Regions from separate parts of the Homo sapiens genome. Here region 2 is linked to region 1. The links come from fine-mapping of genetic effects on gene expression. Tissue or cell type: putamen. Region 1 holds a variant in brackets; the other region holds the start of a gene. All regions are shown on one strand. Distances are between the middles of the regions.

Region 1 (8,103 bases):
GTCACCTCCCTTCTCCACTTCCTTTCGGAGCACTGGGCCCGCCGGTCACCTCCCTTCTCCACTTCCTTTCGGAGCACTGGGTCCCGCTGGTCACCTCCCTTCTCCACTTCCTTTCGGAGCACTGGGCCCGCCGGTCACCTCCCTTCTCCACTTCCTTTCGGAGCACTGGGCCTGCCGGTCACCTCCCTTCTCCACTTCCGAAATCCACTTCCTTTCGGAGCACTGGGCCCGCCGGTCACCTCCCTTCTCCACTTCCTTTCGGAGCACTGGGCCCCGCCGGTCACCTCCCTTCTCCACTTCCTTTCGGAGCACTGGGCCTGCCGGTCACCTCCCTTCTCCACTTCCTTTCGGAGCACTGGGCCTGCCGGTCACCTCCCTTCTCCACTTCCTTTCGGAGCACTGGGCCCCGCCGGTCACCTCCCTTCTCCACTTCCTTTCGGAGCACTGGGCCCCGCCGGTCACCTCCCTTCTCCACTTCCTTTCGGAGCACTGGGCCTGCCGGTCACCTCCCTTCTCCACTTCCTTTCGGAGCACTGGGCCTGCCGGTCACCTCCCTTCTCCACTTCCTTTCGGAGCACTGGGCCTGCCGGTCACCTCCCTTCTCCACTTCCTTTCGGAGCACTGGGCCTGCCGGTCACCTCCCTTCTCCACTTCCTTGCCCCAAGATGCCTAAGGTGGGGGGTGGTCAGTAGGGTCCCCTGGGGGCAGGAGGTCCACCAGCAGCTGGGCACATGGCTGGCCAACCAAGGAGCTCACCTCACCCTGTGCCAGCCCTCCCTCTCCTGGACAGGCAGTCTGTGGTCCCACCCCTTCACCTGTTCCGCCCCACGTTCCCTCTCCTCAATGGCCTGCACTCACACTGCCCTTGCGGACGTAGTCGGGGTCTTTGTAGATGTCCCGGGCAAGGCCAAAGTCACAGATCTTCACCACGTCGCTTTCCGACAGCAGAATGTTCCGAGCAGCCAGGTCTCTGTGGATGCACTGGGGTGCGGGGAGGCGGCAGGGGGGCTGTCAGTGCAGGCCCCTGGGGTAATACCCACACCCGAAACTCCAGGGTGCCCAAGCAGTGGGGACCATGGGGATGCCCTGCCTGAACTGTGCTCCTTTGGGGAAGGATTCCCATCCATCTCCAGGACTCATCATGGAGAGAGCTTGTGGAATTGTGGGGACAGCAGAGAAAGTTGTGGAGTCAAACAGACTCTGCTGCTGACCAGCCAAGAGACCTTGGGAGGTCAACTCCATGCTTTGGGCAGAGTTTCCTCCTCTGCAAAGTGGGAGAGACACTGATGGACCACAGAGCCATTGCAGGGTGAGGCCAGTACCAAGCACTTCTTGGCGACTGGTGGGGATGCACCCTTTTCCCGTCTGAAGGGCCTTCGGGGGAAGCTCACCTTTCGGGAAGCCAGGAACTCCATCCCTCTGGCCACCTGGAAGCTGTAGCAGACAAGATCTTCCATGGTCAGCGGGCTCAGCCACAGGTCCTCAGCTACACAGTGGAGCCAGGTGGGCTCAGGAGGCGCCTCCTCCGCGGCCTCCATCTACCCAGCCCCAGGGAACAGCTAACAAGCATGTCAGCCCCTCTCCTGCCCCTCAGACTCTGGGACACCCACATCCTACTCCAGAGCACCCTCTCCTGCCCCTCAGCCTCTGGGACACCCACATCCTACTCCAGAGCACCCTCTCCTGCCCCTCAGCCTCTGGGACACCCACGTCCTACTCCAGAGCACCCTCTCCTGCCCCTCAGCCTCTGGGACACACACGTCCTACTCCAGAGCACCCTCTCCTGCCCCTCAGACTCTGGGACACCCACGTCCTACTCCAGAGCACCCTCTCCTGCCCCTCAGACTCTGGGACACCCACGTCCTACTCCAGAGCACCCTCTCCTGCCCCTCAGCCTCTGGGACACCCACATCCTACTCCAGAGCACCCTCTCCTGCCCCTCAGCCTCTGGGACACCCACGTCCTACTCCAGAGCACCCTCTCCTGCCCCTCAGCCTCTGGGACACCCACGTCCTACTCCAGAGCACCCTCTCCTGCCCCTCAGCCTCTGGGACACCCACGTCCTACTCCAGAGCACCCTCTCCTGCCCCTCAGCCTCTGGGACACCCACGTCCTATTCCAGAGCACCCTCTCCTGCCCCTCAGCCTCTGGGACACCCACGTCCTACTCCAGAGCACCCTCTCCTGCCCCTCAGCCTCTGGGACACCCACGTCCTACTCCAGAGCACCCTCTCCTGCCCCTCAGCCTCTGGTACACCCACGTCCTATTCCAGAGCACCCTCTCCTGCCCCTCAGCCTCTGGGACACCCACGTCCTACTCCCAGAGCACCCTCTCCTGCCCCTCAACCTCTGGGACACCCACGTCCTATTCCAGAGCACCCTCTCCTGCCACTCAGCCTCTGGGACACCCACGTCCTACTCCCAGAGCACCCTCTCCTGCCCCTCAGCCTCTGGGACACCCACATCCTATTCCAGAGTACCCTCTCCTGCCACTCAGCCTCTGGGACACCCACATCCTACTCCAGAGCACCCTCTCCTGCCCCTCAGCCTCTGGGACACCCACGTCCTACTCCCAGAGCACCCTCTCCTGCCCCTCAGCCTCTGGGACACCCACATCCTATTCCAGAGCACCCTCTCCTGCCCCTCAGCCTCTGGGACACCCACATCCTATTCCAGAGCACCCTCTCCTGCCCCTCAGCCTCTGGGACACCCACGTCCTACTCCCAGAGCACCCTCTCCTGCCCCTCAGCCTCTGGGACACCCACGTCCTACTCCAGAGCACCCTCTCCTGCCCCTCAGCCTCTGGGACACCCACGTCCTACTCCCAGAGCACCCTCTCCTGCCCCTCAGCCTCTGGGACACCCACATCCTACTCCAGAGCACCCTCTCCTGCTCCTCAGCCTCTGGGACACCCACGTCCTACTCCAGAGGACCCTCTCCTGCCCCTCAGCCTCTGGGACACCCACGTCCTACTCCCAGAGCAGTAAATACTGTTGCTCTGTGGGGGCCGGGCACCTGCTGCTTGGCCCTCCACTGCCTGCCTTGTCTGCAGGGCAATTTCCTATTCAGCCTCTGATGACCCAGTCAATCGTAAAACATCTGTGTGAAAATTGTCCCCGAGGTGTCTTCCCTTCCTAAGGCAGAGCCCATTCCACACTCTCCCATGAAAGCCCCCGCTGAGGACCCCAGGCT[G/GGGTTACCCTA]GGGTGCCTGATCACGGGATATAACCGGGCCCGTCAGGCACTAGGAAAAGGGAAGAGGCCAGGCTCTCACCTTCTTGGTCTGGAGAAGCCCGCCTCGCTCCGCCCTCGGTCTTCGAGAACCGCGCGAAGAGGACCCTGTCGCTGCTCCCCGGCCGCCTCCGATCCAGCCTGGCGAGCTCCACCATGGCGCGGAAGCGTCCGCGCTGCTCGGGAGACTTCTCCTGCGGATGCACGAAGCTGGCTCGAGGGCGCCCAGTCGTCCGCCGCAGAGGCGCCTCCATTCCCCCGCCGCCCGCGGCGCCCCGCAGGCCGCCCGCTCACCGCGCAGGGGCTGAAGGCGTCCCGCTTGGCGCGCAGGAAGTTGGAGAGGTTGCCGTACTTGCAGAACTCCACGATCACCATGAGGGGGCCTGCGGCGGGACCGGGCGGCGGCCGTGCGTTCGGAACCCGGGGCGCGCTGCGGGCGCGCTCCGCGTTTGCACCCGCGCCCCCTCCCGCCCGCGGCGCCCCGCGCCCGGGGTCTCGCCGTCCCAGCGGGCCGCCCGCTCCGTACCCTGCGGCTTGGTGCACGCCCCGAGGAGGTTGACCACGTTGAGGTGGTTGCCGATGTGAATGAGGATCTTGAGCTCCGACATCAGCGCGCGGTGCTCGCTGGCCGTGGCGCCCTCTGGAGGGGACACGGGCCTCACACCGGCCCCGACCCTGGCAGGTCCCCGTTCCCCGCCACCCGGCGCTTTTGGGAGGGGGAGGGTTACTAAGGGCCCCCAGGACATCCTGCCGGCCCCACTGAGGCAGAGGGGGTTCGGGTGGTCCCTCGGCTCTGAAGCCCGCAGCCTCCCTGTAGAATCTCGGATGAGACTGGCTTCCAGCCTCAGTCTCCCTTCCCGAGTTGCCGTCCCACCGGCCCACCCCGAGCTGCTGCTCCTCACCAGCTAGGCTGCCCCTTCCGCCCGCTGACCCCACACCTTTCAGCATTTTCACGGCCACGGTGTCACAGCTGCTGCCCTTGTGGATGCCGAAAGCGGAGGCTTCCACCACCTTCCCGAAGGCGCCGTAGCCGAGCACTCTCCCTGTCGGGGCAGGGGGCCAGTTGCAGGTGAGCTGTACGGGGTGAGCGTGGAGACAGGTGGGCGGCGGGGGAGCCCCGTGCAGAGGTCCAGGAGGACAGGCCTGGCAGCAGGAGGAGCGTGGGGAGCCACAGCGGGAAGACAAGGAGAGGTGGACAGGAGGCCGCGCATCCTCCCGGGTAGGTGTGACAGATACACCCTGCTCAGGGTGGCAGCAGGTGACCTCAGGGAGCCTGGGAACTGGGGACCCTGGCTGAGGTTCTAGGTACCCACGCCCACAGGGACAGGTCAGGCCAGGCGGAACTTCCTGGTGCAAGTTTTGAAAATGGAGGGATTCAGGCACTCCGGCCTGCAGCAGGTGGGTCGGGCAGGAGGTGTGGGTTGGGCAGGCTGGTGCTGGCCTCACCCAGGTGCAGCCGCTCTCGGGGGAATTCCCACTGGCTGGCATCGTAGGACAGGTATTCGCATTGCTCCTCCAGAGGCACCTCCCCGGGGTCCATGATGATGGACAGGTAGCCCGTCTTGATGTCTGCGTGGGCCGGCTGCGGGGAGGGGACAGGGAGGAGTGGGGCAGCTCACTGATTTGGCCATACCACTGTGGCTTGGGCAGAACTTTGCCCAGGACAGATGGCACTTCCTGCGGGGTTCTCAGTCAAGGAGGGGACAGAAAAAAAGACAGACAACCTCTGCGGGGTTGGAGCCCAGCGTGAAGGGCAGGGAGGCTTCCCAGGAAACAAGGCTGCCAGGTGAACTAGGGCGGGCACCTTATTCTTTATCTTAGGGGCGGCCAGGGTGGGGAAGGCCTGAGAGAGACTCCATCAGGAGCGGGGAGGGACACTCACCCTCCTCATGTTACAGAAGATGAGGAGGAGGAGGACCCAGAAGAAGACAGCGATGACGCCGGTACCGACAAGGATCACGATCTCCATGCTGCCCTTATCCTCGGAGCCTGCGTGGGCAGAAAGGGGCCGGCGTGTGTGTGTGTGTGTGTAAGAGCGTGCACCTGCAGGCAGCACCCCTTCTGGTGGCCACGACTTGCCCAAGGTGGCCACAAGAAAGCGTTAACTGGGGACGGGAAGGGAGTTGAGGGGTGCAGCCTGAGGCCAGACCTTCCACGGCCACGCTGGCGGAGGAGTTGACGCAGCCCTTGGCGTTGCACACGCTGCACAGATAGCGTCCCGCATCCTCCTCGCGCACGCGCTGGATGCTCAGCTTCTGGTTGGAGTCCGCCAAGTCGACTCCTGCAGGGGGTGGGGTGGAGGTGCGGGTCCACCTGGGTTTGGGATCGTCGGCCTCGCGGGCCTCCGGACCTGCCCTTCGCCAGGGCCACCCTCCCTACCAGACTTTTCCTCCAGCAGCCTCTCGTCTTTGTACCACACGATGCTGGGCGCGTGCGCTCCGGCCACCAAGCACTGCATCTCCAGCGAGTCGCTCACGTTCACCAGGAGGTCGGTCAAGTTCTGCGTGAGCCGAGGGGCTTCCAGGGCTGGGGGCAGGGGTCGAGAGGGAGCTAAGTGGAGCTGCACTTAGCAGGAGGACCCTCTTTGGGCTGGGAGCAGAGGTAGAAAAGGATCCCTGGAAGCTGGACTTAGGGGTTGTGCGCCGGGCAGGAGCGCGGCGCGCCTCCGCAGGGGGCGGCGGATAGTCAGGAGGGGTAGCTCCTGCAGGCCAGGGCTGTGAATAGACCTCCCAGGGGCGAGCCACGCCGGGGCAAAGGCAGAGGCAGCTACTGCTAGAAGAGAGCGCGTCCCCGCCCTCCCCGCGGCCAGCCTCACCCTGCACCGACAGGTACTTCTTGTGGCAGTGCTTGTCATGGCTGCGCCGGTCTTGCACTTCGCACACATAGTGGCCCTCGTGCTCGGGCGCGACGCGGGGGATACTCAGGCTGAGCGTGGCGTGGCGCGCCCCAGGTGCCACCTCCTCCAGGCTGGCGGCCAGAGGGGTGGCGAACAGATGCACGTTCTTGCAGTCGAGCAGAAGCGGGTTCCCGTGCGCATCGTGCAGCGTGGACAGGTTGAGGCGGTACCAGCGCAGATGCTCGTACTTGTAGCTGTCGGCTTGGCAGCTCAGGAGCACCGGCTGGCCCTCTAGTAGCTCCTCGGATGGCTTGGATTCGATGGTGAAGCCGTCGGGGATGGCTGTGGAGGGAGGAAGAAGCCCTGTGGCACTGCCCTGGGAGTTTGCTCCCCCATCCACCTGCCGCCCCGGGGTCTCCTCCTGCCTCCCTCCCTCCCTCTCTCCTGGAGGGGCCCCAGCTGGACTGCTTGCCCCCCGCCCCACCAAAAGCCCAGGTCATCAGGAGTTCCTTGTCACCCTCAGTGGGACTTGAGTCCTCATTCTCTCTTGAAGCTTGCCATGCCCCACCCCATGCTCAGCCTGAAATAACGTGTTCCCTGGCTTTTCCCAGTGCCGTGCGCCCACTTCCTCTTGTCTCTCTGGTCACTTCTGGTCAGGCTCCTGTGGCCCCCCAGCCCCCGGGTGTTCTTTTGGGCTCCATCTCTCTGCTGGTGCCCTGATCTACATCTCTCTGCTGGTGCCCTGATCTACATTCTGGGACCCAGTGACGTCTGCTCCTGGGCTCCGCTCTCCTGAGGTCACTACCACATTTGAAAATCTGAGTAAACCACAGAGCTTCTCCCCAGAGCAAAATTCACACGAGTCACAAGGTCTCAGGGCTTGGGAAGGGGAGGGTGGGAGTGGGTATAGCTAGGAGGAGCTGCAGTGAGCCAAGGGCATCCTTGAGGGAGGAGCCCCAGGGTTGGGGACAGAGGATGCCATTCCATCCCAGTGCGCCAGCACCCAGGCCCTATGCTGGTGACCCTTAAATCTATTTTTCCTGTCTACAACCGGTAGGCCTTGGATCTCTCTCCTGGGTGTCCCAAAGACCCCAGAAACTCAATGAGCCCAAACCTGCCCCCTCCTGACCCTGTACCCAGGCCTCCCCGCCCTGGTCTGGTCACTCACTGGTCACATAGAAGTAGATGAGCCGCTCATCCTGGCCCACCTTGTTGGAGACCACACACTTGTACATGGCAGACACGTTGGCATTCTGGATCACCAGCTTGCTCACAGTCTGGGAGAGCACAGGCACAAGGATCCATTTCCTGCCCAAGTTCTCCCAACCTGGGCCCTGTCTTTCTGCAAGGAGGTCGCTGTGCACCACCCCCCCCAATCATGGGGGAAACTGAGGCTTTGGGCTGGAGAAGACCAAAACTCACAGGACCAGGGATAGTGAGGCAGAGGAGAGAAGGCCCCTGGGCAGCAGAGAGAGGTAGCTGCCCAGAAAAGTCAAGGGACAGTGTATGGACTGCTGGCCTAGGCTGCAGTGACGTCAGAGGGCAGCCTTTGGCAGGACCAGAGAGACCTCTGGCCGTGGCTATGTTGAGGGGGCACCAGCGTCAGTGCAAGCCAGGGTGAGAATTCAGCCTGGGTCACAGCAAAAGCCAGTCACTTCTGGATGGGGTCAGGCCCAATCCAGTCGCTGCTTGCTGAGATCCTCGTGAGATGGCCTCCTCAGCCCAGAACTGTCCTCAGCAGCAATCCCGAGGCCCAGGGTTATTGAGAGGGGTGGGGATGGCTCCCAGAAGGACTGAGGCCTCAGGGAGTAGGAAGCCTGAGACACAGGGGAGGAGAGAGGGCCACAGGCCCTGCCTACCATCCAAAGACCCCCACCCCCACCCCACCCCCAGCTGGGCACTTCCTGTCCAGGACTGGAACAGGAAGAGGCTCTGGAGGTGTGTAGGAAAACAGGAAGTGACTGGAGGAAGTAGGTGCCTTTGTTCAGTACCCCCTTCTCGGCGTTGCCCCCAGGCTGCGCCAGCGGCTCAGCAGCCCTCTGTGCAGAC
Region 2 (8,103 bases), 31 kb after region 1:
AAGCCCTTAGCTGGAAGTGACACTGCCTTCCTGTGCAGCTTACAGCCACCAGCTGGGCCTCACCAGGGCCCCTGAACACTTTCATCCCTGGGCAATACACGTCTGATGGCATGTCTGTGTCCCTGCAAGGCACAGGAAACCCCTGTGCGATGGGGCCAGGTCCAAGTCCTCCCTGGGCCACCCCGAACAGGCACTATGCTGGGGTCTTGCATAGAACTGCAGGCTCCTTCCCTGGGTCGGGGTGCCACTGCTGGGGGTTACAGTGAAGAATTCGCCAGACAGACCACACATCACACCTCGTACCCTGTCTGGGCCCAGCCATGTGGGCCCTATGCTCTGGGAGGGCTCAGGACTCCTTCAGCCACACTGGCTCTGTGCCATAGGCCTGGTGGATGAGGGAACAGCACCTGCATTCGAGTCCTCAGAGCCCTGAGCTGGAGCAGAAGGTCCCCAGGCCCAAGTAAAGTGGGCCTGATCCCCACATCCTGCCTGCAGTGACTTGCATCCCTGGGCCACACATCTGTCCACATCTGGGCCTTTGTGACCCAGGTCACAGCAAGGGCAAACGTCCTGAGACCAGGCCACTCCAGATGCCCAGCAGACCCTGCTCCTGCATGTCCCTGAGCTGGTAGCCACAGTGCAGAGGTGCCAATGGCCTCTCTCTAGACTAAGCCCCAAGAGACATCTGTGACCTACCCTCTCCACTGGGGCAAGACTGTGGAACTGCAGCAGGCATCTGGGTCTTGGAGTCCAGCCCAAGCACACACAACCCACACAACCTCGGGGCTTGCCAGCTTGTGCCATGGCTATGCTTGTGCCATGGCTATGCTTGTGCCATGGCTATGCTTGGGGAAACTGAGGTGCAGGGAGGGGAAAGGAGGGGGCCCAGGTCACACAGAAAGGACTTTACGGCAGAGGCAGGACAAGAGTCTGGTTCTATGATCAATAGCACACTTTTAAGGGGTCAGCTTCAGGATGCTCAGGCTTCTGGCCTGCTCCCACCGGACCAGCTGCCCTGACACCCGACTGCAGCTCCCACCGGACCAGCTGCCCTGACACCCGACTGCAGCTGAGGGCTTGTGCTTCCGCCATGGCATCCCCCATCAAGCTGGGGGCTCCCGGGGTCTTCAGCCTAGCAGGGGGTACAGCAAGGTGCAGGGCTCACGGAGGGATGACCTCTGTCTTCATTGCCATCTCCCCACCAGCCAAACCCAGGTCCAGCCCAGGACACCCCTCTCCATGGGGCGCCCAACTAATGCCCTCTCTCCTCTTCATAACTGGGTCACTAAGAGTCACTACTTACTGCAGGGAATAGCTTCCTCACCCTTCACCCCACGTCCCTCTGTGCTCCACCCGGGAGCACCAGGACACTGGCCTCTCCTGGTTCTCCTTATACCTGCAGAATGTTCCCTGGATCCCTGGAAGCCCCCTTGCCCTCTGGGCCCCTCCTCCAGGGTTCCCCTCCCGGGTCTCTCTCTTCCTCTCCAGCTACTCAGCCCAGCTCAGACACTGCGCCCAGGTGCCTGTCCCATGTCTCCTCCAGGATAAGCGTCTCCCATTCTACAGCCCTGCAGTCCAACCAAGGTCTACCAGCCACTCGACAAATACATCCTGAGCACCTGTGGGAGCCTGGTCCTGGGCTGGGTCCAGGAGGGCCAAGGGCAGCGCCCTGATCTGGCCTGCCCGACTCGGAGGCCCAGATAGATGTTCTCCTCCCTCCTCCCCTGGTTGAGCCAGACCTGCCCCCTCTCCTGTCCTCTGCCCTTCAGCCAGTGGACATACAGGTGGTGAGCAAAGGCAGGCTTTGTCAGGCTTACTTTGGGCCTCCTGGGGACCTTGGGGAAGTGACACATGTCCTTGGTCTAAGCTTCTCCATGTGTAAAATGGGTCTGACACTCCCTGTGAGAATTACAAGCATGTAAAGCCAGTATTTAATTCCTATGGCGTGCAGAAATGTTGAGGTCCCCGTCGCTGACTTCAGGGCTTCAGACACTGGAACCCCTGACCCCGCCCTTACACCCTTTGATTTCCAGGGACACCAGCTCCGTGGGGACTCCCAGCTCATCTTCTCAGCTTCCTCCCTGACATCTCCATCCACTCCCTCTGCCGCCCGCTCATCCCCCACAGTCCCTCTTTCCAACCCCTCCGCCTCCGCTTCAGGTCTGCGTCTCTCCCCGCCAGAGCCACATCCCAACACAAACCGAACCCCGCCTCTCCTGTGCAGGGGACCCTCCCGCGGGGGCCTCTGCTCCTCAGCTGGCCTTCGAGGCCCCTGTCCCCTCAAATCCGGGGACCCCTGGCCTTCCGCCCCTTCTGCGGCGCTGACAGCCCGCGATTCGCCTCCTCAAGATTCGTCTCAAGTGCCAGCGTGCACCTGCACCCGTCCGCCTCGGGCGCGCGGTGGTCCCCGGCCCCTGTCCCCGCCGTCGCCGGCCACGGGGAGGGGGAAGCCCGCCTCGAGCGCCCTCTGGGGGACCGACCGCGAGCGGAGGCGCTGGGCGTCGGGAAGTGCGCACCCAAGTCCGGGGCCCGGCCGGGATGGATCTCCGGCGCGCGTGGGTCGGGACGGCGCGGCGCGGGGACCCCGCGGGGAAGCGAGTAAGGGCGCGAAGGATCCGGGCTCAGCGCGCAGCCCGGCAGGGCCCGGCTCCGAGGACGCGGAGCCACCGACGGAGACGCGGATTCAGGGGCCGGGAGAGCTACCCCTGCGCCGAGGCGCGGCCCGGCCGCCCTGGCCCTGACCCGGCTGCGGTCCCCGCCCGCCCCTTCCTCATCCCGAGGTCCCGCGCCCCAAGCGCCGTGCTCCCCTCAGGCGTCCGCGCACCAGGGCCACCGTGTCCCCCGCCCGTACCCGGCGGAGCGGTCTCAGCGCCCGCCCCAGGTGCGCGGTACCCCCTCCCCGGCCAGCCCCACGCTCGGGCGGGTGGCCCGTTCGCCGCGCTCACCGTCCAGGAGTCCCAGGCAGAGCCACAGTCGCAGGCACAGCGCGGCGCCCCGCTGCATCTCCGGCCGCTGCGCGTGGGTCCGACCCGAGCGGCCGCGGCTCGGGGCTGAAAGTGTCCGCGCGGGCGCCGGCTGGCCTGGGGCGGGGCGGGGCGGGGCGGGGGCCGGAGGCGGGCCCGGGATTCAGGCCGCTCCCCGCGCCCCCCTCCCCCCGTCCCTCCCAGCCCGCCGCGGGGCGTCCGGTGCACCCGAGCAGTGCGCGCTCCGCACCACAGGGTCCGGGCCCCCTCCTGGGCGGCTCCGGGCGCGGGGACGCGGGTAACGCAGACGGTCTCGCGATGCGCTCCGGAGGTGATGGAGCCTGGTGGGCAAAGGGGAGCAAAATGCGGCACGCGCTCTTTTCCGTCCTTTCTTTCCATCGGTAAAATCTAGACTAAACAAGAAAGCAATCCTTGTAAAAATAGTATGTTACATCTTTGAAAATAGTGGCACCAGCCGGCGTAACATAGGGAGACCCAGTCTCAAAAATAAACAAGCAAATAAATAAAATAATACGCCGAGCTTGGTTGTGCGCGCCTGTAATCCCAGCTTCTCGGGGGGGCTGAGGCAGGAGAATCGCTTGAACCCGGGAGAAGGAGGTTGCAGTGAGCCGAGATCGCGCCACTGCACTCCAGTCTGGGAGCCAAAAAAAAAAAAAAAAAAGCAAAAACAAAACCCGTTCAGCAGTGTTTACCTGCACAGTGTCGACGGACAGTGTCGACGGAAGCCGCACCCGTGAGCGGGACACCCGGGATGACCGACCCCCTCCCTGCAGGCCTGGCCTCCTAGCTTTAGAACTCCCCCAGATGTTTTGTTCTCAGCTCAATCAGGACCCGCCCCCACCTTTTTAATAAAGCGACACTTTGCTTTTGCTTTCTGACTTGGCAACCCTCTTACAGACTTCCGTTCTCTTTTCAGTTTGTCTCTAGAATTTTCCTGTTTAATAATGAAGCCCATGACCATGACTGTCTCAACCTCCTTCCCTGCTTTTCGTTTCATTCACATTTTCCATCCCCCCACCCCCGCCCCCCAAAGCCCTTTCATCCTCGCCAAAAAGCAAGAGTAGATTTTCAATAACCACTACCAGCTCTCTCCAATCCAGGTAAGAAGTGGCTATATTATTAAGCTGGAATCACAAATCAGTGCGGATAGTGTAGATAATTTAACAAATAAGGTTGGGGAAACTAGGTAACCAAGCGATACATGAAGTTAGGTATTTATCAATCATATATTGATTTTTTTTAGCTTTGAAAGATTATGAGATGTAACACACTTATGGAAAGTACATAATATATCAGCATATTATAAACCTGAATTTTAAAGCAACAAATACCTGTGTTTCCATTCTCCAGGCCAAGGGATGTAGAATGACATCCCCACATCCCCTCACTTCCCATCACAAACCCCTCACCAACCCCAGAAGATGCCCACTACCCTGGCATTATCATTTCCCTGCTTTTGTTTATCATTTTATCATCAAAATATATGTTTTGCTTTTTTTTTCAGAATGTACTTTTTTTTTTTTTTCTCAAAGTCTCTCTTTTGTTGCCCAGGCTGGAGTGCAGTGGGACGATCTCACTGCACTGCAATGCAACCTCTGCCTCCTGGGGTCAAGCAATTCTCCCGCCTCAGCCTCCTGAGTAGCTGTGATTCCAGGCACCCGGCACCATGCCCGGCTAATTTTTGTATTTTTAGTAGAGATGGGGGTTTAACCATGTTGACCAGGCTGGTCTCAAACTCCTGACTTCCTGATCTGCCAACCTCAGCCTCCCAAAGTGCTGGGATTATAGGCATGAGCCACTGTGCCCCGCCCAGAATATACTTGTTTTTTTTTTGTTGTTGTTGTTGTTTTAGACAGGGTCTCACTTTGTCACCCAGGCTGGAGTGCAGTGACATGATATCTGCTCACCGCAGCCTCAGCACCCCCCGGGCTCAAATGATCCTCCCACCTCAGCCTCCCAAGTAGCTGGGACCACAGATGTGCGCCACCACACCCAGTGACTTTTTTGCATAGCTGGGTTTTCGCCACGTTGCCCAAGCTGGTCTTGAACTCCTGGGCTCAAGTGATCCACCTGCCTCAGCCTCCCAGAATGCTGGGATGACAGGGATGAGCCGCCGCATCCAGCCAGAATGTGCTTTTAAAATTTTAAAGTATACTTAGAGGACATAAGTGCAGATTTCTTAATTCATATATTGTGTACAGGTGAAGTCTGGGCTTTTAGTGTACGCGTCACCTGTACAGTGGACACTCTACCCAAAAGGTGATTTTTCAGTCCTTACCTCTTGCCCTCCCTCCCTGCTTTTGGAGTCTCCAGTGTCTATTACTCCTCTCTGTGTGTTTGTGTCCCTACAGTTTAGCTCACATTTTGCTTGTTGTTTTTTTTTTCCACTTTATCTCAGTGCCTTCATACCATTTATATTCTTTTGCTCAACACCATTAGTGAGATTCATCTATATTGCTGTGATGATCTATACTTTGCTCATTTTCGTAACTGCATAGTTTTCCACAGTAGGATACACCACAATTTGTCCATCTACTATTAATGGAAGTTTGAGTGGTTACCAGTTTCCAACTTTTGCCACAACACTCTTGTATGTGTTTCCTGGTGTACACATGCTGTCTTCAACTTTGGTAGCCAGTGCCAAGTATTTTTTCAAGTGATTTGTACCATTTTGCATGATCATGGCAGCGTAAGCAGTTACCGCTGCCGCACACCTTTACCCACAGTATTGTCAGTTTTGGTTTTTAAAATGTGGCCATTCTAGTTGGTTTGCATTGGCATCTCATTGCGGTTTCATTAGCTATTTTTTTTTTTTTTTTTTTTTTTTGAGACAGAGCCTTGCTCTGTTCCCAGGCTGGAGTGCAATGGCGCGATCCTGGCTCGCTGCAACTTCCACCTCCCAGGTTCAAGCAATTCTCCTGCCTCAGCCCCTGGAGAAGCTGGGATTACAGGCATACGCCACCATGCCCAGCTAATTTTTGTATTTTTAGTGGAGACGGGATTTCACCATGTTAGCCATGCTGGCCTCAAACTCCTGACCTCGGGTAATCCACCCGCCTCAGTCACCCGAAGTGCTGGGATTAACGGAGGTGAGCCACCATGCCTGATCTATTAGCTTTTCCTTAATTACCATTGCGGTTGAGCACATTTTTATAATTGGCCATTTAGATTTCAAGTCTTTTGCTCTTTACGACTCCCCATCTGTCTTTTTCTTATTGATTTGTAGTTCTTTATATATTCTGCATATGAGTCTTTTATCAGTTCCTTTATTATTGCTGTATAATGAAGTACTCCAAGATGTTGTGGGGCAAAGCAGCAGCTATTTCGTTTTGCTCATGCTTTTGAGAGTCAGGAATTTGACAAGGGCTTACTTAGCTGGGTTGGATGCCTGGTGGTCGGTGCTGGCTGTTGTCCAGAAGCTCAGCTGGGGCTGCCAACCAGTGCGCCCATTCGGTGTCTTTCCAGCATGACAATCCCACATTAGTTGAAGTTCTTGTGTAGCAGGTGGCTTCCCCAGAGTGACTATCCAAGAGAACTAGGTGGAAACTAGATAGTCTCGAAGAAGTCACAGCCTGCCTAGGGGACATGTTCCCCACAATTATTAGAGAGAGGCAAGGTCACATGCAGAAGAGCATGTGGGATGGCAGACACTGCCAAGGCCATCTGTGGAAAAGGAACTTGGGTACATTGTGCTACACATCTCCTCTCATTCGGGGTCTGAATTTTCACTTCCGTAATGCTCTCTTTTTGGGAGGCAGGATGAAGACAGAAGATTTTCATTTTAACACAGCACGCTTACAAATTGGTTTCCTTATGGCTGGTGTTACTTGTGTTATCTCATTATTTTATTACTATTATTTTTTGTTTGCGATGGAGCCGTGCTCTGTTGCCCAGGCTGGAGTGCAGTGGCAAGATCTCGGTTCACTGCAACCTCCGCCTCCCGGGTTCAAGCGATTCTCCTGCCTCAGCCTCCCGAGTAGCTGGGACTACATGCGTGTGCCACCATGCCTGGCTAAATTTTGTATTTTTAGTAGAGATGGGGTTTCGTCATGTTGGCCAGGCTGGTCATGAACTCTTGACCTCAGGTGATCCGCCCACCTCGGCCTCCCAAAGTGCTGGGATTACAGGCGTGAGCCACTGCGCCCGGCCTTGTGTTCTTTTAAAGAAACCTTTATCTTGATGTCATGAAGATATTTACTATTTTTTATCACTTATAAATTTTAATGTTTTATTTTCTCTTTCATATTTAGACCTGCGGGCCCTGGAATTGCCTTCTCTGTGTAGCGTAAAGTAGGTGCATGTGTCGAGTTTCTGTCTTTCACCCCGTAAAGATATCTTGCTACTGGCCGGGCGCTGTGGCTCACGCCTGTAATCCCAGCACTCTGGGAGGCCGAGGTGGGCAGATCACGAGGTCAGGAGATCGAGACCATCCTAGCGAACATGGTGAAACCCCGTCTCTACCAAAAAATACAAAAAAGTTAGCTAGGTGTGGTGGCGGAGGCCTGTAGTCCCAGCTACTCGGGAGGCTGAGGCAGGAGGATGGCGTGAACCTGGGAGGCGGAGCTTGCAGTGAGCAGAGATTGCACCACTGCACTCCAGCCTGGGTCACGGAGTGAGAGTCCGTCTCAAAAAAAAAAAAAAAAAAGGTATCTTGCTATCTCATGACCATGATGAGAAGGTCATGCTTTCTACACTTTTCTCTAGCTCCCCCTCAGTCATACATTAACGATCTACACGGAATGGTTCATTTTCTCAGCTTTGTCTATTTTTGTACTGATACTGTCACCAAAACATCACAGGTTCCGTCTAGGTCCGGCCGCCCACCATACAGAAAGCCAATGACAGAGGAGACAAGTATTGTCAAGGAGGAACGTTTTAATCAGGTGCTGTGGCTGACAAATCCATCTCCCTGACCAACTAAAACCAGGGCTTTACATAGCAAGGAAGAAATGAAACAATGTGTAACAAAACAAAAACTAAGGAGGGGCAAGGAAGCAGTCATGATGAATGAACGGTCCAGCATCATTGTCTGGATGTGGAGATCTGGCGATTCTCAGTTCTTTGATACTTTATTTTTTTATTTTTTTAGAGGACTGAAGGTTGTTTCCTGAGGAAGGAA

Direction of the effects. Alleles are on the strand shown, and positions count from the first base shown. SD is a standard deviation of normalised expression in the study named.
For the expression in putamen of the gene that starts at base 3,058 in region 2, G is the low allele of the variant in region 1 and GGGTTACCCTA is the other (large effect, 0.89 SD a copy in GTEx).

The links. PIP is the estimated chance that this variant, and not a neighbour inherited with it, causes the effect.
Region 2: it holds the start of FLT4, and the variant in region 1 is fine-mapped to the expression of FLT4 in putamen (GTEx, PIP above 0.99).

Annotation. Positions count from the first base shown.
Region 1 is chr5:180,615,509-180,623,611 of GRCh38, forward strand. FLT4 (fms related receptor tyrosine kinase 4) reads right to left here. Exons shown (of 30, transcript NM_182925.5): 12 at 7,223-7,331; 13 at 6,034-6,396; 14 at 5,598-5,744; 15 at 5,368-5,499; 16 at 5,101-5,207; 17 at 4,665-4,800; 18 at 4,157-4,261; 19 at 3,745-3,858; 20 at 3,513-3,601; 21 at 3,262-3,412; 22 at 1,392-1,486; 23 at 859-981. Among named protein-coding and RNA genes, the nearest start is that of SCGB3A1, 28 kb to the left of the region's middle. RefSeq lists an enhancer at 4,323-5,522. The variant G/GGGTTACCCTA (reference allele first, on the strand shown) is at 3,192.
Region 2 is chr5:180,646,543-180,654,645 of GRCh38, forward strand. It overlaps FLT4 (fms related receptor tyrosine kinase 4), which reads right to left and starts at 3,058. Exons shown (of 30, transcript NM_182925.5): 1 at 2,946-3,058. The coding sequence starts at 3,003.